Regions from separate parts of the Homo sapiens genome. Here regions 2 and 3 are each linked to region 1. The links come from fine-mapping of genetic effects on gene expression. A gene starts in region 1. Each other region holds a variant in brackets. All regions are shown on one strand. Distances are between the middles of the regions. Region 1 holds the start of DPEP2 (dipeptidase 2). Region 2 overlaps PSKH1 (protein serine kinase H1). Region 3 overlaps NFATC3 (nuclear factor of activated T cells 3).

Region 1 (10,855 bases):
AAATTAGCTGGGCATGGTGGCACATGCCTGTAATTCCAGCTACTTGGGAGGCTGAGGTAGGAGAATCGCTTGAATCTGGGAGGTGGAGGTTGCAGTGAGCTGAGATTGAGCCACTGCACTCCAGCCTGGGCAACAGAGCGAGACTCTGTCTCAAAAAAAAAAAAAAAAAAAAAGATTTGCAGTCAGGTAGGTCAATGGGAAAGACCCATACCCCAACGAGATCCATGTAGACATCTCCCTCACTGACTTCATCCCAGAATATTGTCACCTGCAAACTGGGGATCTCCTGACTGATATCACCTTAAACGTGACAGATAGGATCCATGCCAAAAAAGCTTTTGGAGGAAAGCTGAACTTCTATGATCTTTTTTTTTTTTTTTTTGAGATGGAATTTCACTATTGTTGCCCAGGCTGGAATGCAATGGCACAATCTCAGCTCACTGCAACCTCCTCCTCCCTAGGTTTAAGCAATTCTCCTGCCTCAGCCTCCCTAGTAGCTGGGATTACAGGCGTGCGCCACCACGCCCGGCTAATTTTGTATTTTTAGTAGAGGTGAGGTTTCTCCATGTTGGTCAGGCTGATCTCGAACTCCCAACCTCAGGTGATCTGCCTGCCTGCCTTGGCCTCCCAAAGTGCTGGGATTATAGGCGTGAGACACAGTGCCCAGCCATGAACTTCTATGATCTTTGAGCAGAGGGGGTCAAGTTGCAAGTCATGGCCAATTTCAGGAATTATAATTTCAGGAAGAATAATTTATTCATATTAATAACAAACTGCGTTGGGGAAACATAATTGGAATTCAGAGGAATCCTGGGAAAAACCAAGAAGGATGAGCTGAGCTTCATTCCCTATGAGATCACACTGCTGTGGCCTTGCTTGTATATGTTACCTCATCTTCACTTTGGCCTCAAAGACAAGGAAATAAGGTATGGTCAGAGATACTTGGACTTGATCCTGAATGAATGAGGCAGAAATTTATCATCTGCTGTAAGATCATCACATGTATAATAAGTTTCTTAGGCCAGGTGCAGTGGCTCACGCCTGTAATCCCAGCACTTTGGGAGGCCAAGGCAGGCAGATTGCCTGAGGTCAGGAGTTCGAGACCAGTCTGGACGACATGGTAAAACCCCACCTCTACTAAAAATACAAAAATTAGATGGGCGTGGTGGCAGGTGCCTATAATCCTAGCTACTCAGGAGGCTGAAGCAGAATTACTTGAACCCAGGAGGTGGAGGTTGCAGTAAGCCAAGATTGCACCACTATACTCCAGCCTGAGCAACAAGAAAACTCCATCTCAAAAAAAAAAAAAAAGTTTCTTGGATGAGCTGGGATTCCTAGAGCTTGAAACTCCCATGAATGAACGTCATCCCAGGGGAGCTATGACCAAGCCTTTCATCACTTATCACAACAAGCTGCACATGAACTACTCTAGAACTCTACCATAAGATGCTAGTGGTTGGTGGCATTGACCAGGTTTATGAAATTGCATTCCAGTTCTGGAATGAAGGAATTGATTTGACGTAAAATCCTGAGTTCAGCACCCCTGAGTTCTACATGGCCTAGACTATCACAATCTCACGGAAATCACGGGGAAGATGGTTCCAGGGATGGTGAAGCATAATACAGGTAGTTACAAGGTCACCTACTACCCAGATGTCCCAGAGGGATAAGCCTGCAATATTGACTTCACCCTACCCTTCCGGAGAATCAGCATGATAGAAGAGCTTGAGAAAGCCCTGGGGGTGAAGCTGCCAGAAAATAACCTATTTGAAACTGAAGCAATTGGCAAAATTCTTGATAATATCTGCGTGCAAATGCTATTGCGTGCCCTCCACCTAGGACCACAGCCAGGCTCCTTGACAAGCTTGTTGGGGGAGTTCCTGGAAGTGATTTGCAACAATTCTACATTCATCTGTGATCACCCCCAGATAATGAGCCCTTTGGCTAAATGGCACTACTCAAAAGGTCTGACCCAGCGCTTTAAGCTATTTGTCATAAAGAAAGCGATAAGCAATGCCTACACTGATCTAAATGATCCTATGCAGCAGTGGCAGCTTTTTGAAGAACAGGCTAAGGCCGCAGGTGATGATGAGGCCCTGTCCGTAGATGAAAACTTTGTTGCCGCCATGGAATACAGGCTGTCCCCCACAACTGCCTGGGGCATGGTTATTGACCGAGTCACCATGTTTCTCACAGATTCCACCAGCAACTCGGAAGGCTGAGGCAGGAGGATTGCCTGAGCCCAGGAGTTTGAAGTTTCAGTGAACAACACAGTGAGACCCTGTCTCTAAAAGGAAATTTTTTTTTTTTGAGACAGAGTTTCGCTCTTGTTGCCCAGGCTGGAGTGCAGTGGCACGATCTCAGCTCACTGCAACCTCCGCCTCCCGGGTTCAAGCGATTCTCCTGCTTCAGCCTCCCAAGCAGCTGGGATTACAGGTGTGCACTGCCACACCTGGCTAATTTTTGTATTTTTTATAAAGACGGGGCTTCATCATGTTGCCCAGGCTGCTCTCGAACTCCTGAGCTCAAGCAATTCACCTGCCTTGGTCTCCCAAAGTGCTAGGATTACAGGCGTGAGCCACCATACCCAACCTTTTAAAATTTTTTTCTTTTCTTTTCTTTATTCCTTCCTTCCTTCCTTCTTTTCTCTTTTTTTAATCTTACAAAAAATGTTTCGGAAAAGGTATTTTATTTTTAAGACAGGGTCTTGCTCTTTCCCAGAGGCTGGAATGCAGTGGAGCGACCATAGCTCACTGTGGCCTCTAACTTCTGGGCTCAAGCAATTCTCCCACCTCAGCCTCCTGAGTAGCTGAGACTACAGACATGTGCCACCATGACCAGCTACTTTTTAAAAAATTTTTTTGTAGAGAAGGGGTCTCACCATGTTTCCCAGGCTGGTCTTGAACTCCTGGCCTCAAGCAATCCTCATGCCTTGGCCTCCCAAAGTGCTAGGATTACAGGCATGAGCCACCATCTCTTGTCCCCTGAGATACTTTTAATGGCCTTGCTGGATCCAGCTCCTGCACCCCAGGGCCCTCCTGCCTCCTCCCCACCCTCGGCTGATGGCACTACCTCAAGGACATGGGATAGCATGCAGCCTTCTGTCCCAGATCCTCTGTACTGTCTGAAATCAGGCAGAACCCAGCTGCAAGAGGAACTCAATGGTACACATGGGACCCAAGTCATCAATCGTCTCCATCAGAAAGCAACCCAGGGCCAGGCACAGTGGCTCAGGCCTGTAATCCCAGCACTTTGGGAGTCCAAGGCGGGTGGATCACCTGAGGCCGGGAGTTCAAGGCCAATGTAGTGAAATCCCGTCTCTACTAAAAATACAAAAATTTGCTGGACATGGTGGTGCATGCCTGTAGCCCCAGCTACTAGGGAGGCTGAGGTTGGAGAATTGCTTGAACCTGGGAGGCGGAGGTTGCAGTGAGCCAAAGTGGCACCACTGCACTCCAGCCTGGGCAACAGAGCAAGATCCTGTCTCAAAAAAAAAAAAAAAAAGAAAAGAAAAAAGGCCGGGCGCAGTGGCTCATGCCTGTAATCCCAGCACTTTCAGAGGCCAAGGCTGGTGGATCACCCGAGGTCAGGAGTTCGAGACAATCCAGCCTCATCAACATGGTGAAACCCCATCTCTACTAAAAAAAATACAAAAATTAGCCAGCCTGGTGGTGCATGCCTGTAATCCCACGTACTTGGGAGGCTGAGGCAGGAGAATCGCTTGAACCTGGAAGGTGGAGGTTGCAGTGAGCCGAGATCGTGCCCTCGCACTCCAAAAAAAAAAAAAAAAAGCACCCCAGGAATGTTGGACAGAGAGGCTGGCGGGGTAGGGGTTGGTTGGTAAGGCTTGAGCAGAAGGTTCTAGATGCATTCAGGAGATAAAGATGCATTTGGGGTTATTGCACTTCTCCTAGAAACATAAACATTGACTTCCTTTTGTGGAAGAAAAATGTTATGTTAGCTATTTGACGTTTCAGGAAGGGTGGCTTCAGCTTGGTGATTGGAGGATGTTTGTCTACAGTGGCCAGGCTGCTTTCTGGCTTGGAAGACTATTGTTTCTTGGGAATTGTCTGTATCAGACATCATGGGAGCAGATCCAGGGCGACATCAAAGGGAAGCATGAGTCTCCAGGACCAGAGGGGCTTGGATGCAGATGATCATCATCTGGGCACTGCTGGATACTGAGTAAGCCCCAGCTGCACCCCACCTCTGCGCTCTGAGCATGGGAGGCAGCCTGTGCAGCTATAACTCAGCCTGACTTTTTCCTTCCCTGCATACTCTTGAAATACACTGGAGATGAGTAGGGGCGAGTGAGCTGCACACCAGAATAAGTTTGGTCCTTGGAGCAAACTGTTTCTACTGCTGCCTCCTCTGCAGGTCTTGATTTATGCAAACACTGCATAGAAGAGGAAGTAGAGGGAAAAGCTGTTCACCCACCTACTCCTTCCTGGTAGCAAGATTTCCTATCCTGGCCTTGCCTCAACAGCCCTACCAATTGGAGGCTGAGGTTGTGCCAAGGCTCTATGGGGGGACGTAGCATCACTGAGGTGGCCAGATTTTGGAGGACAGGAAAGTTTGTGCTATTTGCTGAGACTGGAGAGGCTGGTGAGAGCAGACTCTCCATGAGTTGAAAGCCAAAGAAAGAAATTCGGTAGATTTCTGCAATGAGAAGCCACGGAAGAACTTCAGGCAGGAGGATGCATTGGATCTTGTTTTCGTTTTGTTAGAGATGGGGTCTCACTCTGTCGCCCAGGCTAGGGAGCAGTGGTGCCATCGTCTCTCACTGCAACCTTAAACTCCTGGGCTCAGGCGAACCTCCCACCTCAGCCTCGTAAGTACCTGGAACCACAGGCATGCACCACTTTTTTTTTTCCTTTTTCTTAGAGTTCTCATTATGTTGCCTAGACTGGTCTCAAACCTCCGGCTTCAAGAGATCCTCTCACCTCGACCTTCAAATTACTGGGATTACAGGCATGAGCCACCATGTCCTACCAGACTTTGTTAAAAGAGGAACAGGCCAGGCATCGTGGGCTCACATGAACACTCATGCCCCAGAAGTAAACAAGTGTTAGCCAACCAGGAGGCCTATCCTCCCCCTAACCTCACCCAAAGCCATCTCTGTGCCCTCCCCCTTGCAGGGGAAACAGCACACACTAGTGAAATCTTGTCTTAGTGTGTCCGGAATTGGTGGGTTCTTGGTCTCACTGAGTTCTAGAATGAAGCTGCAGACCCTCGCAGTGAGTGTTACAGCTCTTAAGGTAGCGCGTCTGGAGTTTGTTTCTTTTGATGTTTGGATGTTTGGAGTTTCTTCCTTCTGGTGGGTTTGTGGTCTTGTTGGCTCAGGAGTGAAGCTGCAGACCTTCGTGGTGAGTGTTACAGCTTTTAAGGCAGTGCGTCTGGAGTCGTTTGTTCCTCCCAGTGGGCTTGTGGTCTCGCTGGCTTCAGGAGTGAAGCTGCAGACCTTCGCGGTGAGTGTTAAAGCTCATAAAAGCAGCATGGACCCAAAGAGTGAACAGTAGCAAGATTTACTGCAAAGAGCAAAAGAACAAAGCTTCCACAGTGTGGAAGGGGACCAGAACAGGTAGCCACTGCGGGCTCAGGCAGCCTGCTTTTATTCTCTTATCTGGCCCCACCCACATCCTGCTGATTGGTAGAGCCGAGTGGTCTGTTTTGACAGGGTGCTGATTGGTGCGTTTACAATCCCTGAGCTAGACACAAAGGTTCTCCACGTCGCCACCAGATTAGCTAAATACAGAGTGTCGACACAAAGGTTCTCCAAGGCCCCACCAGAGCAGCTAGATACAGAGTGTCAGTTGGTGCATTCACAAACTCTGAGCTAGACACAGGGTGCTGATTGGTGTGTTTACAAACCTTGAGCTAGATACTGAGTGCCGACTGGTGTATTTACAATCCTGAGCTAGACGTAAAGATTGTCCACGTCCCCACCAGACTCAGGAGCACAACTGGCTTCACCCAGTGGATCCCGCACCAGGGATGCAGGTGGAGCTGCCTGCCAGTCCTGCGCCATGCGCCCGCACTCCTCAGCCCTGTGGTGGTCGATGGGACTGGGCGCTGTGGAGCAGGGGGCGGCGCTCACCGGGGAGGCTCCGGCCGCACAGGAGCCCATGGAGGGGGTGGGAGGCTCAGGCATGGAGGGCTGCAGGTCCCGAGCCCTGCCCCCCCGGGAAGGCAGCTAAGGCCCGGTGAGAAGTCGAGCGCAGCGCCTGTGAGCTGGCACTGCTGGGGGACCCAGTACATCCTCCGCAGCCACTGGCCCGGGTGCCAAGCCCCTCATTGCCCGGGGCCAGCAGGGCCCGCGGGCCGCTCCGAGTGCGGGCCCGCCAAGCCCACGCCCACCCGAAACTCCAGCTGGCCCGCAAGCGCCGCTCGCAGCCCCGGTTCCCACTCGCGCCTCTCCCTCCACACCTCCCTGCAAGCTGAGGGAGCTGGCTCTGGCCTTGGCCAGCCCAGAAAGGGGCTCCTACAGTGCAGCGGTGGGCTGAAGAGCTCTTCAAGTGCCGCCAAAGTGGGAGCCCAGGCAGAGGAGGCCCCGAGAGCGAGCGAGGGCTGTGAGGACTGGCAGCACGCTGTCACCTCTCATTAGGAGCTGCCAATATCAGTGGCACAGACCTGAGCACAGGGATAATTTGGGGTCAGAGGCTACAGTCTAAGTTAGCTAGATGCTGGCAGTGGGCAGAGTGGAAACAAGGCAGAGGCGGGGAAACTCAGGGCCTGACTCCAGAGCCGACCTTAAGTGTCACCGCTGATTCCTCCTTACTGTCTCCCACCAACCCTGCTTCAAAGCATCTCCAAATCCTGGGTTCAACTTCCAAACATGTCCCAGGAATGTCTCCTTCCTGTTCCCACTGCTTCTCCCCCTTACAGGCCCCTTCATTCCTTACCCCTCCTGATCTCCTGGCCTCCAGCCCATTCCCTACAGAAAAGCCATACCTATTTCTTCCATTTTAAAAAATGTGAGCTGGGCGCGGTGGCTCATGCCTGTAATCCTAGCACTTTGGGAGGCCAAGGTGAGTGGATCACGAGGTCGGGAGATCAAGACCATCCTGGCTAACACGGTGAAACCCCGTCTCTACTAAAAATACAAAAAATTAGCCGGGCGTGTTGGCGGGCACCTATAGTCCCAGCTACTCGGGAGGCTGCGGCAGGAGAATGGCCTGAACCCGGGAGGCGGAGCTTGCAGTGAGCCGAGATTGTGCCACTGCACTCCAGCCTGGGCGACAGAGCGAGATTCCATCTCAAAATAAATAAACAAATAAATATAAAAATAAAAAATTTGGCCAAGGGTCGGGGGTGGCTCATGCCTGTAATCCCAGCACTTTGGGAGGTCAAGGCAGGCGGATCACCTGAGGTCAGGAGTTCGAGACCAGCCTGGCCAACATGGCAAAACCCCATCTCTACTAAAAATACAAAAATTAGCCGGGAGTGGTGGCATGCGCCCGTAATCTCAGCTACTCGGGAGGCTGAGGCAGGAGAATCACTTGAACCCAGGAGGCAGAGATTGCAGTGAGCCAAGATTGCACCATTGCACTCCAGCCTGGGCAACAAGAATGAAACTCTGTCTCAGAAAATAATAATAATAATAATAATAATAATAATAATAATAATAATAATATCATTATCTATTTTTTTACAGACAGGGTCTTGCCCTGTCACCCAGGCTGGAATGCTATGGTGTTATCATAATGCTCACTGCAACTACAAGTGTGGGTGTGTCTGTGATTCGCTTTGTATGGTCCCCTCAAGGCCACATTTGAGGACTGAAGTTGCATATCATGGAAAATTGTGTTGTCTGGCTTATCTCCTACAGAGACAGTGCTCACTTTTACTGGCTCAACTCAGCCTGCCTCTGCTGAGCTAGCAGGTACCCCAAGTCCCAGGAGGTCAGACATTCGGGCTCTGGAGAGAAGCTTAAAAAAAAATGCAAAAAGTTGGCCGAGTGCGGTCGCTCACACCTATAATCCCAGCGCTTTGGGAGGCCGTGGTGGGTGGATTACCTGAGGTCAGGAGTTCAAGACCAGCCTGAACAAAATGGAGAAACCCCATCTCTACTAAAAAATACAAAATTAGCCAGGTGTGGTGGCACATGCCTGTAATTCCAGTGACTTGGGAGGCTGAGGCAGGAGAATCACTTGAACCCAGGAGGTGGAGGTTGCAGTGAGCCAAGATCACATCATTGCCCGCCAAGATCACATCATTGCCCTCCAGCCTGGGCAACAGGAGCAAAACTTTGTCTCAAAAAAAAAAGAAAAAAAATTCAAAAAGTTGAATTCTCCTCACCTACTCTGTCAGCTGTTATTTATTTATTCCTACCTACCCCTTCCTTATTTTTACATTTTTCAAACTGACAAATAATAATTGACCAGCCTGGGCAATATAGTGAGACCCTGTCTCTAAAAAAAAAAAAAAAAATAGCCGAGTGTGGTGGCGAGTACCTGTAGTCCCAGACTCGGGAGGCTGAAGTGGGAGGATTGATTGAACCTGAGAGGTTAAGGCTGCAGTGAGCTGAGACTGCACCACTGCAGTCCAGCCTGGGTGACAGAGCAAGACCTTATCTCAAAAACAATAATAATAATAATTTGCACATATTCATGGGGTACATAGTGATTTTTGTTGTTGTTGTTGTTGTTGTTGTTGTTGTTTGGCGGGGGGAGACAGGGTCTCGCTCTGTCATCCAGGCTGAAGTTCAGTGGCCCAATCTCGGCTCACTGCAACCTCTGCCTCCTGGGTTGAAACGATTCTCCCAACTCAGCCTCCCAGGTATTTGGGACTACAGGCGCGCACCACCAAGCCCGGCTAATGTTTGTATTTTTAATAGAGATGGGGTTTCCCCATGTTGGCCAAGCTGGTCTCGAACTCCTGACCTCAGATGATCCACCCACCTCGGCCTCCCAAAGTGCTGGGATCACGGGTGTGAGTCACTGCGCCCCACCCATAGTGATGTTTCAATACATATAACACATAATGATCAGGTTCAGTTCCTCATTCTTTATGCCCCTTACCTCTTGGGGCTCTCAGAATAAACTGTTTATCCCCAAAACCACATCTTTGACCTGGAGACCAGCAAATCCAAGAGCTTCTCCTCCCTCTCACTATTCCAGTGGGTGTGGGGAGCTGCTGACCAGCAGTGGATGATGGAGAGAAGGAGGGAAGCCTGTGTTGGGGTACCCAAACCACCCAGATCTGGGACACGCCCTACTGTTCTCTGAAGCAGAGCCCAAGAGGACTCACCATCTGCAGTGGGCCTCCCTATAGAACCCTCCAGCAGGGCTGGGCACAGTGGCTCACATCTATACTCCCAGCACTTTGGGAGGCCAAGGTGAGATCATCACTTGAAGCCAGAAGTTTGAGACCAGCCTGGGCAAGAAGGCAAGACAGTCTTTAATTAAAAAAATAAATAAAAAATAAAAAAAAAGCCCAGGTGCGGTAGCTCACTCCAGTAATCCCAGCATTTTGGGAGGCTGAGGCAGGCAGATTGCTTGAGACCAGGAGTTCGAGACCAGCCTGGGCAACATGGCAAAACCCCATCTCTACTAAACAACAAAATTTAGCCGGGCGTGGTGGCGCATGCCTGTAGTCCCAGCTACTCGGGAAGTTAAGGCACAAGAATCGCTTGAACCCAGGAGGTGGAGATTGCAGTGAGCCAAGATTGTGCCACTACCCTCTAGCCTGGGCAACAAAGTGAGACTCTGTCTCAAAACAAACAAAAAAAGACCCCCTTCGGCAGCAGTAGACGTGACAGTTAACCCACCTCGAGCACTCGGCCATCGATCTGCCTTCCTCCTGGACAGCAGACACTGGGCAACATCAAGTGTGCAGTCCCTAAAATACATCAAAGCTGGGATCACTTCCCCTCCTGGGTAGCTTGGGACCTCCAGTCCCTTTGGAAGAGTTGGTTCATTTTCTTTTTAGGAGGCCTTCTTGAATCTCTAGTCGTCGTCAGGCTTAGGTCACACTACCCATGCACTGATCAGCCCTGCCACGTGGGGGAGGCTCCAAAAAATGAAGCGGTTCCAGGGGTGCCAAGGTTCAGAGCAGAGTCTTGAGAGCCTGAGGGGCAGGAGGAGGCAAAGGTCTCTGAGGACGAAGGGGTTTGGCCACAGTCCCGGAAGATCTCAGGTCGTGGGGCTTCTGTGAGCGGGCACATCCCCTGTGCCTGTGTGATTGTGAGCTTGTGTGCTTGTGTGGTTGGGGGTCCTTCCTGGAGGAGGCATCTAGGTTGAGGGCCCCAGGCCGGGAATGGGGTGGGGCCTGTCGTCAAGGAAGGGACTCAGCCCTGGAGGTTTCTGTGAGAGCTCAAGCCACAGGAGCCACAAGATAAGAGGAGTGTGGCTGCAGAACCCAGGTGGCAGGGCTTTCCTCAGGCCCCTTACTCCTGACCTGGACGAGGCCGGGGCTTCCTCAAGGAGGTAGGAGGTATCCTGGCCAGCAGATCAGCCAGAAGCTCTAGGAGGAAGGTGCTGCGGCCGGGGACTCTGCTGCCCTAGACAAGACTTCATTTCCTTCCATGCAGATGGCTGTGTGGGTTCCTGCTCTGTTGAGTGAATGTTCCCTGGCAGTGGCCAGATGCTTGCTGCGCTCTCATCCCTCCACTGGGGTCCTGGGGAGGTGTGGCAGCTCCTTAGGAAGGAGCTCTTTCCTAAGGCTGATTGGAGAATGTGCGGTCGGGGCGGGGGGCGGAGGAGTGCTCCTGACAGGTCCTAGTAGCTGGGAGATTCCCCAGAGTATAGGCTTGAGGGCCTAAGTTACGGGAGAGAGAAGGTCAGGGCCAGGGGGCCCCTTCCTGAATCCAGTCCACAGGGTTAACCCCTCATTTCCAGAGCCTATCTTCTCCCCC
Region 2 (10,855 bases), 100 kb after region 1:
AGAAACCCTGTCTCTACTAAAAATACAAAAATTAGGCGGGGCGCGGTGGCTCATGCCTGTAATCCCAGCACTATGGGAGGCCGAGGTGGGCGGATCACAAGGTCAGGAGTTCGAGACCAGTCTGGCCAATATGGTAAAACCCCATCTCTACCAAAAAAATACAAAAATATTAGTCGGGCGTGGTGGCGCATGCCTGTAATCCCAGCTACTCAGGAGGCTGAGGCAGAATTACTTGGACCCAGGAGGCAGAGGTTGCAGCGAGCCACCAAGATCGCGCCACTGCACTCCAGCCTGGGTGACAGAGTGAGACTCAGTCTCAAAAAATATATAAAAAATACAAATACAAATACAAAAATTAGCCAGGCATTGTGGCAGGCGCCTGTAATCTCAGCTAATCTGGAGGCTGAGGCAGGAGAATTGTTTGAACCTGGGAGGCATAGGTTGCAGTGAGCCAAGATCATGCCACTGCATTCCAGCCTGGGCAACAGAGCAAGACTCCGTCTCAAAAAAAAAAAAAAAAATCAGCTGGGTATGATGGTATGCACCTGTAGTCCCAGTTACTTTGGAGGCCAAGGCAGGAGGACTGCTTGAGCCCAAGAGATCAAGGCTGCAGTGAGCGATAATCACACCACTACACTCCAGCCTGGGTGACAGAGAAAGACCCTGTTTCAAAAAGGAAAAAAAAAAAAAAAAAAAAGAGTGTAGTGCCCCAAGCAGTGGAGTGGAATCGAGAGCTATCAGCAGCAGAACTTCCATGTTGGGTGGAAGGAAGAATGAGGACAGCACCCCGTCCCTTGCACAGCTCAGCGGCAAGTGGTCAGGAGTGTAGCAAGAAGCACAGATTTGGGAAGCAGTGGAAAGAGTTCAGTTTTGGATGTGTGGGGTGCATGTAGACCATCCATGTGACATTTACTGTGGGTTACTAGATACAGAATCTGATGTCTGGGGAGGCTGAGACAGGAGAATCGCTTAAACCTGGGAGGCGGAGGTTGCAGTGAGCTGAGACTGTGCCACTGCACTCCAGCCTGGGCAAAAGAGCAAGACTCCATCTCAAAAAGAGAGAGAGAGGAAAAAATGAGGTTTATCTATGGGGCATAGTGGCTCATGCCTGTAATCCCAGCACTTTGGGAGGCCAAGGCGTGAGGACTACTTGAGTCCAGGAGTTCAAGACCAGCCTGGGCAACACAGAAAGACCCTATCTCTGCCAAACATTTTTTAAATTGAGTCAGACATGGTGGCATGTGCCTGTGATCCCAGCTACTTAGGAGGCTAGGGTGGGAGGATCTGCTTCAGTCCAAGAGGTTGAGGTTGCAGTGAGCGGTGATGGTACCACTATATTCCAGCCTGGGAGACAGAAATCCTGTCTGAAAAACAAAGCAAAACCAAACCAAACCAAAAAAAAATATTGTTTATTTTTCTTCACATAAGAGGAAAAGATTCCTCCACAAGGCTCTTCAGGATTTGCAGCTGTTCTCACCCAAATGCACAGGAAGTTCCACATGGCAACTAGGAAATAATGTTAAACAAAGGCATTTAGAACCAAGGTTCCTTTTCGCAGAGGCCACAGGATAGAACTACGGACTGTGGAATTTTGCAGACTTATTTCTTCTTTCAGGGAAAACACAACACCTCATGCAGTGAAGGACTGAAGCTCCTCTTGGGCTGGTATTCCTGAGGCAGAACACAGGTCCCTCACCCCGATGCCCACGACCACTCAGTAACAACATCTACCACCATTCGGAGGCAAGACAAACTGCATGAGTAACCCAGCACAGCCACTCAGATGTCACTTCTTCCTGGTGAAGAAGCAGAACCCTAGATTCACAAAATAAACAGTCATCTACAGGCACATGTACTGGGTATTTTTGTTTAAATTTTTGTTTAAATGAGGACCTAGTCTGGTCCTCAGGGAAAAACCTAAGGTTTATAAAAGAAAAGGCCTGGCTGGGCGCAGTGGCTCAGGCCTGTAATCCCAGCACTTTGGGAGGCTGAGGTGGGCGGATCACAAGGTCAAGAGTTTGAGACCAGCCTGACCAACATGGGTGAAACCCCGTCTCTACTAAAAATACAAAAATTAGCCCCGGACGTGATGGCACGCGCCTGTAATCCCAGCTGCTCAGGAGGCTGAGGTAGGAGAATCGCTTGAACCAGGGAGGCTGCAGTGAGCCGAGATCGCACCACTGTACTCCAGCCTGGGTGAGAGATCGAGACTGTCTCAAAAAAACAAAAAACAAAAGGTCTAACTTTTCGATTCATTTTTATTTCTTTTTTTTTTTTTGAGATGGAGTCTCGCTTTATCACCTAAGTTGGCGTGCAGTGGCACGATCTCAGCTCACTGCAACCTCCACTTCCCAGGTTCAAACAATTCTCGTGCCTCAGCCTCCCAAGTAGCTGGGACTACAGGCATGTGCCACCATGCTTGGTTAATTTTTGTATTTTTAGTAGAGACAGGGTTACAACACATTGGCCAGACTGGTCTTAAACTCCTGGCCTCAAGTGATCCGCCCACCTCCGCCTCCTAAAGTGTTGGAATTACAGGTGTGAGCCACTGCACCCGGCCTCACTTTTCACTTTAAACAAATAAAACCTACAGGGATCAAAGGTAAGTCAGCATCAGGGCGCAGTGGTTTACACTGTGATCCTAGCACTCTGGGAGGCCAAGGTGGGAGGATTACTTGAGCCCTGGAGTCTGAGACCAGCCAGGGCAATGTAGTGAGACCTCCATCTCTACAAAAAATTAGTCAGGCGTGGTGGCATGCACCTGTAGTCCCAGATACTCAGGAAGCTGAGGTGGAGGATAGCTTGAGCCAGGGAAGTCGAGGCTGCAGTGTGCTGTGTTTGTGCTATGGCACTCCAGCCTGGGCAACAGAGCAAGACCATGTCTCCAAAAAAAAAAAAAAAAATAGGCTGGGCATGGTGGCTCACGCCTGTAATCCTAGCACTTTGGGAGGCCAAGGCAGGTGGATTGCCTGAGCTCAGGAGTTTGAGCCAGCCTGGGCAACACGGTGAAACCCCGTCTCTACTAAAATACAAAAAAAATTAGCCAGGCGTGGTGGCATGAGCCTGCAGTCGCAGCTACTCAGGAGGCTGAGGCAGGAGAATTGCTTGAACCCAGGAGGCGGAGGTTGCAGTGAGCTGAGATCGCGCCACTGCACTCCAGCCTGGGCGATAGAGCGAAACTCCGTCTCTTAAAGAAAGAAAGAAAACAAAATAAAGTCAGTCGGCAATAAGAGAGTCAATGATTTTCCCTCTGATCTTCCTTCTGTCTTCCTGAGACATAGTTTCTCTCACATTGATTCCAATCAGAAACTCTGTAAAGATAGGCTGATGCGGGTACTCCACCATCCCAACTACAGATTGAAACTGGAGGATATTAGACCAAATTGGCCAAGAGAGGGGAAAAAAAAAAGAAAGTAGAGAAGAGAGGGTGCTGGCTGAGAGGTGGGGACAATGGGCAACAGCCCCCAGGTGATCACAGCTGCTCCACAGTCCCATCACATCTGTTAAACTCCCTCTCCACACTGTGGTCAGGTGAAAATGCAGACTCTATAACACGGGAGGTGGCTGGTAAAGCTCCTAGGAAGAAGAGCAGAGCCTTTTCCTGTTCCCAGCATCTCTTGTGTGTGCCCCTAGCCCAGAGATCACGGTAGGTGTAGGGATGGGCAAGGATGAGTAAGGAAGCTTCAGGAAGAGACTTCCCAGGAGTGTCACAGTATGTCATCTTGCAGAAAGTACCCAACTCTCTAGAGTCTGCCTCCAAAACTTAAACTCCCAGCCTGGTCCAAAGCACTCTTCAAAGAAGGCACGCACATTGGACAGAGTGTGGCAATGGGTATGAGCATTCAGCATTATCGTCCTCACTGACAATCTACAGAAATGACAGTCCAGGAGAGGTAAAGAGACTCGTCCAAAGCCACTCAGACGGTGGTGACCAAATATCCTGGACCCAAATATCCTAGTTCCCCATCTGGGGCTCCTTCTATCACTCCGGAAAGACTCCAGCAGTGCTGGGCCTCATCCAGTCAAGGCCTTGATCCTTCCCCATGCCACTGAGTTGGTGAACCCACAAAGCTTTCCTGAGGATCTTTCCTGAAGGGTCTGCTTTAGAAACCTCCATTCCAACTATAATCTGAGTCACACTGCTCACTGCTCTACTCCAGACTGCCTTTGATCACTACAGCTGTCAGACCCTTGAGGGAAGGGGCCATTCTCAGGTTTCCAGAACTCCCTTGGTACTTATCAAATTGCTGAACTCAGAGCAAATGAAATGTGGTCTGGCCGGGCGCAGTGGCTCACGCCTATAATCACAGCATTTTGGGAGGCCAAGGCAGGTGGATCACCTGAGGTAAGGAGTACAAGATCAGCCTGGCCAACATGGTGAAACCCATCTCTACTAAAAATACAAAAAAATTTCCTGGGCATGGTAGTGGGCACCTGTAATCCCAGCTACTCAGAAGCTGAGGCAGGAGAATC[A/G]TTTGACCCTGGGAAGCAGAGGTTGCAGTAGGCTGAGATCATGCCACTGCACTCCAGCCTAAGCGACAGGGCAGCACTCCGTCTCAAGAAAATAAAAAGAAAGAAAAAGAAAAACAGGCAGGGCACAGTGGCTCATGCCTGGAATCCTAGCACTTTGGGAGGCCGAGGCAGGTGGATCACTTGAGGTCATGAGTTTGAAACCACCTGTCCAACATGGTGAAACCCCATCTCTACTAAAAATACAAAAAAATTAGCCAAGTGTGGTGGTGGACACCTGGAATCCCAGCTACTTGGGAGGCTGAGGCTGGAAAATCGCTTGAACCTGAGAGGCAGAGGTTGCAGTGAGCCGAGATCACGCCACTGCACTCCAGCCTGGGCAACAGAGCAGGACTCCATCTCAAAAAAATAAATAAATAAATAAAAGAAATGTGGGCTGGCACAGTGGCTCATGCCTGTAATCCCGGCATTTTGGGAGGCCAAGGCGGGCCGATCACGAGGACAGGAGATTGAGACCATCCTGGCTAACATGGTGAAACCCGGTCTCTACTAAAAATACAAAAAATTAGCCCGGTGTGGTGGCAGGCGCCTGTAGTCCCAGCTACTCAGGAGGCTGAGGCAGGAGAATGGCGTGAACCCGGGAGAAGGAGCTTGCAGTGAGCCGAGATTGCGCCACTGCACTCCAGCCTGGGCCATAGAGCGAGACTCGTCTCCAAAAAAAAAAAAAAAAAAAAAATGTGGTCTGGCTCTTGGATTTCTATTTGCTGCAAGTCAACAATTCTAGAACCTTAGAAATGTTGAAGAGGCAAGATCGGTGGTTAAACCATAGCCACACTCTTTGGACACCCTGTAAATATCCTCAACAATGAAGGAAGTCTGTTTGAGTTTTACAGATTCTTATCTGAATGCCAAAGTAAGTTTGTTCACAAGCTGCCAAACCTAGCCCCATTTCTGGGGAAAGCTAGGGGTCCCGGGGCAGGGAGCAAGGATGAATCCTGAAACAATTTCCTATCCATAGAGGCAGGGTCTGTGAATGTCTTCCAGGCAAGGAACCATAGGAACCTTGCCCTCTCCAAGCAAAGCTTTATAACCTGTCACCTGCAAATATCTCTATATTCTACTGACATGTTTTGAAAAACTGTCTACCGGCTGGGCGCAGCGGCTCACACCTGTAATCCCAGCACTTTGGGAGGCTGAGGCAGGCGGATCACGAGGTCAGGAGTTCAAGACCAGCCTGGCCAAGATGGTGAAACCCTGTCTCTACTCAAAATACAAAAATTAGTTGGGTGTGGTGGCACATGCCTGTAATCCCAGCTACTCAGGAGGCTGAGGCAGGGAACTGCTTGAACCCGGAAGGCAGAGGTTGCAGTGAGCTGAGATCGCGCCACTGCACTCCAGCCTGGGCAACAGAGCGAGACTCCATCTCCAAAAAAAAAAAAAAAGAAAGAAAGAAAAAGAAAGAAAAACTGTCTACTAAAATGAAGTAGGTAGTAATTTCTCAATAATTACAGAAATAAGGCTGGACGCAGTGGCACACAACTATAATCCCAACACTCTGGGGGCCAGGGCAGGAGGATCACTTGAGGCCAAGAGTTTGAAACCAGGCTGGGCAACATAACAAGACCTTGTCTCTACAAAAAAAAAAAAGTTTTTTCTTTTTTTTGAGACAGGGTCTCACTCTGTCACCCAGGCTGGAGCGCAGTGGCGCAATCTCGGCTCGCTGCAGCCTCCTCCTCCCAGGTTCAAGCGGTTCTCGTGCCTCAGCCCCCGAGTACCTAGGATGCCTGGCTAATCTTTGTATTTTCAGTAGAGACAGGGTTTCACCATGTTGCCCAGGCTTGTTCTCGAACTCTTGAGCCCAAGTGATCTGCCTGTCTTGGCCTCTCTACAAAAAATGTTTAAAAAATTAGCTGGGTGTGGCTGGGCGCGGTGGCTTACGCCTGTAATCCCAGCACTTTGGGAGTCTGAGCCAGGTGGATCATGAGGTCAAGAGTTCAAGACCAGCCTGGCCAACACAGTGAAACCCCGTCTCTACTAAAAAATACAAAAAAAATTAGCCGGGCGTGGTAGCGTGCACCTGTAGTCCCAGCTACTCGGGAGGCTGAGGCAGGAGAATGGCATGAACCCGGAAGGCAGAGCTTGCAATGAGCCAAGATGGCGCCACTACACTCCAGCCTGGGCAACAAAGCAAGACTCCGTCTCAAAAAAACAAAATTAGCTGGGTGTGATGCTGTGTGCCTGTAGTCCCAGCCACTCAGGAGGCTGAGGTGGGAGAATCACTTGAGCACGGGAAGGCAAGGTTGCAGTGAGCTATGATTATGCCACTGCACTCCAGCCTGGGCAACAGAGTGAGACCTCGCCATCATCAGAAATACAGACCCTGGCAATGTACCTGGGGTTCTCCTTCCAAAATCCCAACGTTCAACCCAGAAATATTTACTGAATTCCTGCTGTGGGTCAGGAACTCTGCCAGAGATTGCGACAAACAAAAAGAAGGCGGCCATAGTCTCTAATCTTAAGGAACTTACAGCCTGGATGGCTCCACACCAAGAGTCCCTTGATACATGACTCTTAGGATGCCCTGAGAGGCCATTTCAAGGCTGGCAGCTTGGAAAGAAAACTTTCTCCCAGCAAATGAAAACATCACATGTTTCCACCTTAGCATCACATCAGACACCATGGCAACAGAGGGCTGTACCAAGAATTAGCTCAGTGATGACCTAGCCAACACAAACCGGCTTAATGCTCCTTGAGTAAGATTCCTGGAAGGAAAGGGAGTTCAAATAAATAAGTCTCTCTCCAGCTCTCAACAAGCAGAACTGCTTCCCTTCTTCCAGAGCTGTACTTTTTCTCAAAAATTTTTCCCCATGCCAAGATACACAGAGAGAATGATAGAATGATACTATTGTATAACACCCGGGAGTCAGTGGAGACAGCTGTTCTCAGCTATCCTGAAGCTTAAGGGTCGATACTTTGGCACACCTATAGCCCATTCACATCATACAGCTGAGAAGCTGTGAAGAGGACCTAAGTTGCCCATATTACACACTCACACTTCCAAAGTAAAACAGAAGGCCAAACCAAAGTCTCACTCATTTAACTATGAACTTGTGATTATGATAGAGAACTCCAGCACCTACTTCTGTAGGGGCATTCTGTTCTAGATGCCAACCAGATGCCTGAGGTGAAGTGCAACTGGAGCTCAGTGTCAGATGCAAACAGGTTTCCTGAAGGCTGCACTTTTTCTAGCTCATTTATGCAACTTAACAAGCACAAAACTACAATTAGACCTAGACAATATGCTTATTCAGCAAACCCACCCTCTAGTGAATCAGCATTCCAAATCTCTTCTAGGGGTATGGCCAACTGAATCGACCCTGATTTAGAGGCACCATATTGCGGGAGGCTGAGGCAGGAGAATCGCTTGAACCCGGGAGGCAGAGGTTGCGGTGAGCCAAGATTGAGCCATTGCACTCCAGCCTGGGCAACAAGAGCAAAACTCCGTCTCAAAAAAAAAAAAAAAAAAAAAAAAGAAGCACACTATTGTCAGTTTTCCCCGATGACCAGAAATGACCTTGAGGAAATCACACAATACAAAGCAGCTTCCTACACACAACTAACCCTGAAGAACAAACACGCTTATTAAGACAAGACCTTCTAGCCGGTTGTGGTGGCTCATGCTTGTAATCCCAGCACTTTGGGAGTCCGAGGTGAGTGGATCACCTGAGGTCAGGAGTTTGAGACCAGCCTGAGCAATACGGTGAAACCTCGTCTCTACTAAAAATACAAAAATTAGCCAGGTGTGGTGGCAGGCATCTGTAGTCCCAGCTACTGAGGAGGCTGAGACAGGAGAATTGCTTGAACCTGGGAGGCGGAGGTTGTAGTGAGCCGAGCTCACGCCATTGCACTCCAGCCTGGCGACAGAGCGAGACATCATCTCAAAAAAAAAAAGAAAAGAAAAAAGAAGACAAGACCTTCTTTTGACAAGGGAAACTCTGGGAAGAGGAGCCATTAGTAATAAAAGTGGCTTCCATTAACTGAGTGCCAACTTTGCTAAGGATCTTATATGTACCATCTCACTCCTCTCTACAAGCACATGTAGTAGGCACGATGATTCCTATTTTGGAATAAGGAAATTAGGACTTAGAGAACCTCAAGATTTCAGAAAAGCCAGAAACTGAATCCAGGTCTTTCTGACACCAAAGCCCATGCTTCTAGGCATGAGACCACAACAGGAGTCCACAAGGCAAGGCCTTCTCACTGGACAAAGGAGACAACAGTTTTCTTAGGCAATGACAAAGATCTTCAATGAGGAAGCACAGTAAAGTTACCTGGGAAGTTTTCTCAAAATACAGATACCTGGCCAGACATGGTGGCTCACGCCTGTAATCCCAGCACTTTGGGAGGCTGAGACGGGTGGATCACGAGGTCAAGAGTTCAAGACCAGCCTGGCCAACAGGATGAAATCCCGTCTCTACTAAGAATACAAAAATTAGCTGGGCGTGGTGATGCGTGATTGTAATCCCAGCTACTCGGGAGGCTGAGGCAGGAGAATCGCTTGAACCTGGGAGGCGGAGGTTGCAGTGAGCCGAGATCGCACCACTGCACTCCAGCCTGGGTGTCAGAGCAAGACTCCATCTCAGAAAAAAAAAAAAAATACAGATTCCTACCCCAGATCTTCTTCATCAAAATCTCAAAGAGTGGGTCAGGTGTGGTGGCTCTTGCCTGTAACCCTAAAACTTCGGGAGGCCAAGGTGGGAGGACTGCTTGAGCCCAGGAGTTCGACACCAGCCTCGGCAACATGGCGAGACCTCGTCTCTGTTTAAACAAAAAAAAAAAAATCTCAGCCAGGCATAGTGGCTTATGCCTGCAACCCTAGCACTTTGGGAGGCCGAGGCAGGTGGATCACCTGAGGTCAGGAGTTCGAGACCAGCCTGGCCAACACGGTGAAACACCATCTCTACTAAAAATACAAAATTAGCTGGGCATAGTGGTGCTTGCCTGTAACCCCAGCTACTCTGGGGGCTGAGGCAGGAGAATCACTTGAACCTGGGGGGTAGAGGTTGCAGTGAGCCAAGATCGCGCCATTGCTCCAGCCTGGGCAAAAAGAGCAAAACTCCGTCTCAAAAAAAAAAAAAAAAAAAAACTAACTCAGACAGTAAGGCTCTTGATTTTGTATCACAAAATTATCCCAGGAGATTTTGGACTATCCAGGATTAAGAGGCTGTACTACCTACCACACACATACGCTGGCATTTGCTGTGCTCATCTTAGATCCTAGCCCTGATAGGTGCTCAAAAATACAGTTGAATCTATCCATTCATAAGTCAGCATTCAGCAAATGCTACTGGAGGCTAGCCCCTATTTTATGCCAGGCACAGAGCCAGACATATGCAGACAGAAGACCACCATGTGACACAACAGGATGTACTCAATAGTAGCAGCATGGATATAGAGGAGTTAATGGTTACATGCCAAGCAAGGTAGATTTTTTTCCTAGGAAGTGACATCTCAGGTGGATTTTATAGGACAGATGTAAGTTTCCAACACTGGTAGGTGGTCGGTGGGGTGGAAGGCAGTGTATAGCAAACTGAGAAAACTGCGTTATCTAAAGCACAAGGGGACCAAGCACAGTGGCTCACGCTTGTATTAATAATCTCAATATGTTAGGAGCCTAGGCAGGAGGGTCTCTTGAAGCCAGCTCTGGCAACAAAGCCAGACTCCCTGGCTCTACAAAAAATTTTAAACTTAGCCAGGCGTGGAGGGGAGTGCCTCTTGTCTCAGCTACTCGGGAGGTTGAGGCGGGAGGATCATTTGAGTCCAGGAGTTCAAGGCTGCAGTGAGCTATGAATGAGCCATTGCACTCCAGCTTGGGCAATAGAGGCCTTGTCTCAAAATTAGTAATACTAAAACACAAAGGTATGAAACCAGAGCTAACAGGAGCGCCACACGTTTTAACAACAATAAACTACGTAAAGGGAGCACAGAAGTGCTCCGGTGTTGATTGGCTGGTTAAACCTTCACCAGATTACGAAGAGCCCTGAATGCCTTGCTAAGAAGTGCGGCCTTTGTCCTGAAGGCACTAAGGAACTAGTTTCAGGCAGTGAAGGACTTACTCAGATTTTCAGGTGGGAATTATCACTTCAGCCGCTTTATGGAGGGGGACTAAGTGTGGGGGACTAGGCTTCCCCTTGCAGGTAGAGGAATGACAAGCTTGCCAAGCAAGCAACCCAGCTGGACTCAGACCTGCTATTTCCCAGCCTGCACAAGGAAGCGATCAGCTGCCCCGCCGGCCCCTGGCAGACGCAAAGGAGGGGTGTGGAGTAGGCGCCGGGCGCGAGAAGGCAGTAAGGACAAGGACAACCAGGTTGGATCAACCTGACCC
Region 3 (5,000 bases), 220 kb before region 1:
ACATAGAATAGTAAAGAAGTAGGGACTTGAAGCCAAAGGACTCTGCAAAACAGTGAAGATTAATCAATACTGGTGAGCTAATAACTACTAAGTGATAAGCTTTTTTTTTTTTTTTTTTTTAAACTGGTGCATGCCACCGTGTCCGGCTAATTTTTTGTATTTTTAGTAGAGACGGGGTTTCACCATGTTAGCCAGGACGGTCTCGATCTCCTGTCCTCATGATCCACCCACCTCGGCCTCCTGAAGTGCTGGGATTACAGGCATGAGCCCCCGCGCCTGGCCAGTGATAAGCAATTTTTTAAGGTATAGATTAATAAAGTACTTTGTCAGATTTTTTTTTTTTTTTTTTTTTGAGATGGAGTCTTGCTCTGTCACCGAGGCTAGAGTGCAGCGGCACAATCTTGGCTCACTGCAACCTCCGTCTCCCGGGTTCAAGTGGTTCTCCTGCCTCAGCCTCCCAAGTAGCTAGGATTACAGGTGCCCGCCATCGTGCCCGGCTAATTTTTGTATTTTTAGTAGAGACAGGGTTTCACCATCTTGGCCAGGCTGGTCTTGAACTCCTGACCTCATGATCCACCTGCCTCAGCCTCCCAAAGTGCTGGGATTACAGGTGTGAGCCACCACGCCTGGTGTTTTGTTTTTTAAGAGACAGGGTCTCGCTCTGTTACCCAGACCGGAGTGCAGTGGTGCAATCATGGTTCAAACTTGAACTCCTGGGCTCAAGCCATTCTCCCACCTTAGCCTCCAAAGTATTTGGTTGGTATAAAAGTAATTGTGGTTTTTGGCATTACTTCTAATGGCAAGAACCGTGATTACTTCTGCACCAACCTAATAACTGGGACTATAGGCACACACTACCACACCTGGCTGATTTTAAAATTTTTTTTGTAGAGATAGGGTCTTGCTATGTTGCCAAAGCTGATCTCTAACTCCTGGCCTCAAGCAATCCTCCCACAGTGCTGGGATTACAGGCATGAGCCATTGTGCCTGACCTGTCAGATGATATTTAAGTAAATTTGCCAGGCTAGGATTTATTAACCATTCATAATGGATGCTGCAAAGAATAATGGAATATAAACTAAACTTACTCCTGACTTTCTAAAAATAACTCACTGGAATAGTTTCTTTGTAAATGAAAAGTTGTGAGGATGCTTTGCATAAGAATATATTTTTCTCTTCAGTTTCCCCATCAGTACAATGGAGAAGAGAAATACCTCTTATACAGTACATAGAGAGGGAATATAAAGTGGGCATAAGAACGCAAGGCAGCCCTTGGCACCTGTTATTTCAAGTCACAAAAAATATAAGGAAGAGTGTTTTCTGTGCAGGTTCTGGGGGTTCTACGAGCTAGTCTTGTGCTAAGAGGGAGCACAAGGATGGCCCACAAATCTCTGTGCGTGACTTCTAACATGCCTCCTCTTCATATTAGATTATCATCAGGCATCATCATTATGTCTCCCAAATAGGCTATGAACTCCCAAAAGGCAAGAACCTTGCCACTGAGGAAACACCCATTCCTGATGACTAAATAAATGGACCCTAATTCAATACAATCACTTGGAAGCTATTTAGAACAAGCACAGTGAAAGTTCATTAGGTGGTAGGTAGGAAGGGGACCAGAGTATGTTAAGACTAATGCATGTTATTTGATTTTCACAGTGTGTATTTTAGGCAGGCGTTACAGCAGTGGCAAAAAGCCAAATATATAAGCAAGCACCTGGCTCACAATCAAATCATCTTTTCTTATCATTTATCACTTCCAAAGGCAATAATTTCAAAGATGTTCCAGGCTGCTATGAAAAACACTTTTAACAATTTGTATTTCACTGTTCAAGTTTTAAAACTACAAACGGATTTTAAATGGTGTTTTATCATCAAAAACCACATGACGTGTTTTCTCTCTTTTTTTTCTTTTTTCTATTTTTTTTTTTTTTTTTTTTTTTTTTTTTTTTTTTTTGGCAATGGGGTCTCACTCTGTTGCCCAGGCTGGAATGCAGGTGGCACAATCACGGCTCACTGCAGCCTTGATCTTCCCACCTAAGCCTCCTGAGTAGCTGGGCCTACAGGCATGTGCTACTACGCCTATGCCTTTCTAATTTTTGGATTTTTTTTTTCTTTCTGCAGAGATGAGGTCTCACCATGTTGCCCAAGCTAGTCTCAAACTCCTGGACTCAAGTGATCCTCCT[G/A]CCTCAGCCTCCTAAAGTACTAGGATTACAGGCGTGACCCACTGCACCCAGCCGAGGTGTTGTTCTTCTATATCTTATAAGAAGTCAATGCTTCTATTTTCCTGACGATGAGGGTCCATATCTGGCACTGTCCATCCACTTACCAAGTACACTTATATAAGGATGAAACCATCATTTTCTAAAGTAGATATGTGGTATTGATTATAATGGAAGCCTGCTCAATGCTGTGTTATTTCTGCTCCCCCTTGCCAAAGCTCTGCTGTTCCTTTGCCTGGTGTGCCTCACCTTACTTAGCTGAAGGAACCTGGAAAGTTCCTGACAGTTTAGGATTTTAAGACTATGTTAAAGTCAGAAGATTTTCCACAAAGTAGTGCTCAAGCGGACTATACTCAACTATACATTATACTACAGGATTCACTTATTTATGAATTCACCAGCAGTCAGGAGATTTAAGTTCCAACGGGGCAGACTTTCTCTATCTTGTTTTCCCCTGAATCCCTAGTGCTTACATATATTGAGTACTAAATAAAATTACTTGCCAACTGAATCTTTAAAACAATTTGGGGACTTGGAACAATGACAACAAAAATCATGCTCAAGTAATTGCTACAGGTGAGCACTGAATATAAATTTTAGGCTAGGGAGTCAGAACTGCAACAAAGTGCTTTCACAGACCTTTAGCAATAACTTGAGCCGAGTGTTAATCATGCAAGTCCTCTGCTTTCCTTCTCCCTCACTTCTCCCTCGGGCTGGGGGCTCTGGGTTCAGGCTCTCACCTCTAGATTCCTCAGATATCTTCCTGCTGGGACTGGCCAAAACGTAGGTCTCAACTGAAGCAAGTCAAAATTATTACTGGTAAACAAATCTATGATGTAATGTAAATGTAAGTCATTAGCAATCTTGATAAGCACAATTTTTAAGTTGTTAAAAATACTAATGCTTGCAATTTAATTTTTCAAGTCATCTTGAATGGATATATGCATGAATTTGCTAATTTATTTAAACTGTAATCCAGGCCAGGTGCCATGGCTCATGCCTGTTATCCCAACACTAGGGGAAGCCAAGGCAGGAAGATTGTTTGAGGCCAGGAGTTCAAGAAGAGCCTGGCCAACAAACAAAGTGACAATTTTTTTTTTTTTTCTGAGACAGAGTCTCCCTCTGTCTCCCAGGCTGGAGTGCGGTGGCGCAATCTCAGCTCACTGCAAGCTCCGCCTCCCAAGTTCACGCCATTCTCTTGTCTCAGCCTCCCGAGTAGCTGGGACTATAGGCGCCCGCCACAATGCCTGGCTATTTTTTTTTTTTTGTATTTTTTTTTTTAGTAGAGACGGGGTTTCACCGTGTTAGCCAGGATGGTGTCGATCTCCTGACCTCGTGATCCACCTGCCTCGACCTCCCAAAGTGCCGGGATTACAGGCGTGAGCCACCCTGCCCGGCCGGGACAATTTGTCTCTTAAAAAAAAAAAAAAGGAAAAATAAACTCTAGTCCACTAAGTATGTGAGGTGGTTTCCTATTTTTTTCACCAATTTAAGATAAGAGTATAAGGAATTGTTTATGCCCCTAATGTACAATTTTATCATTTTTCTTCCCCCCAATTTTTTTGAGATAGAGTCTTACTCTGTCACCCAGGCTAGAGTGCAGTGGTGTGGTCTTGGCTCACTGCAACTGCTGCCTCCCACCCAGCTAATTTTTGTATTTTTGGTAGAAACGAGGTTTCTGCCATGTTGGCCAGGTTGGTCTCAAACTCCTGACCTCACATGATCTGGCCACCTCGGCCTCTCAAAATGCTGGGATTACAGGCGTGAGTCACCGCACCCAGCCCTCATTTTCCTCCCTTTAAAGAGCAAAGTGAATTAAAAGCCTAGAACAAGAGTGAACAGTCCTCAATAAGGGTGCTAACAGGTTATGTAGGTCACAGGATCTGGCACACTTTTGGCAGCCACCATCTGTGACTTCCACTACCCCAACACCTGAATTTGCCTGTGCCACCACAACAAAAGTAGAGTCACAGCTATCAATAATGTTTGCTGTAAGAGAAAAAGTTCGTATTCAAGAAATGTTCAAATTGGCAGTCCACTGGAATGCTATTTCTACACACAAGAATGAGGTGCTTGAGTACCAATAGGACTCTTATTTAGAGCTATTTCCCATGCTTAAGAATTCAAAGTTAGAACTGACAAGTATATAGTATGGAACCTCACAACCAGGTAGAGAGGGGCAGGGTAACCCAGTGTGCTCCCTCTTTGAAGGGAGTAGATACACACTGCCATATACACAAAATCCCAACGGGCCTTTCTAATTTGCAATTTTGTAAAGGATTTCGGGGTATTTTTAGACTCCATTTATATGTTATTTCCTCTTGAAGCTGCAATGAACATTCACCAAAGTTTGGTCATGTTATTCTTTTCCTGAACCTGAAGATTAAAGGTATTCATCCCCTGGGTAAACAATTTTATGAAGGTGTTATTATTATTATTATTACTATTATTATTTTAGGAGACAGTGTCTTAGTCTGCCACCCAGGCTGGAGTGAAGTGGTGTGATCATAGCTCACTACAGCCGTGAACTCCTAGGCTCAAGCGATCCTCCCGCTTCAGAGCCCTGCCCCAAGTAGCTGGGACTACAGGCATGTGCCACCAAGACCAGCTAATTTATTTTTTTATTTTTATTTATTTTTTTTGAGACAGAGTCTTGCTCTGTCACCTAGGCTGGAGTGCAGTGGCATGATCTCAGCTCACCGCAACCTCCGCCTCCCGGGTTCAAGCAATTCTCCTGCCCCAGCCTCCCAAGTAGCTGGGATTACAGGTACCTGCCAC

Evidence for each region. PIP is the estimated chance that this variant, and not a neighbour inherited with it, causes the effect.
Region 2: its variant is the best candidate, but not a certain one, in a credible set for the expression of DPEP2 in whole blood (INTERVAL, PIP 0.71).
Region 3: its variant is the best candidate, but not a certain one, in a credible set for the expression of DPEP2 in whole blood (INTERVAL, PIP 0.50).

Annotation. Positions count from the first base shown.
Region 1 is chr16:67,993,778-68,004,632 of GRCh38, reverse strand. It overlaps DPEP2 (dipeptidase 2), which reads left to right and starts at 5,149. Exons shown (of 11, transcript NM_022355.4): 1 at 5,149-5,258. It also overlaps the pseudogene KARS1P3. RefSeq lists an enhancer at 6,210-6,726.
Region 2 is chr16:67,893,683-67,904,537 of GRCh38, reverse strand. All of the region lies in intron 1 of PSKH1 (protein serine kinase H1), which reads right to left. Among named protein-coding and RNA genes, the nearest start is that of PSKH1, 5.9 kb to the right of the region's middle. The variant A/G (reference allele first, on the strand shown) is at 4,474.
Region 3 is chr16:68,219,247-68,224,246 of GRCh38, reverse strand. All of the region lies in intron 9 of NFATC3 (nuclear factor of activated T cells 3), which reads right to left. Among named protein-coding and RNA genes, the nearest start is that of MIR6773, 12 kb to the left of the region's middle. The variant G/A (reference allele first, on the strand shown) is at 2,187.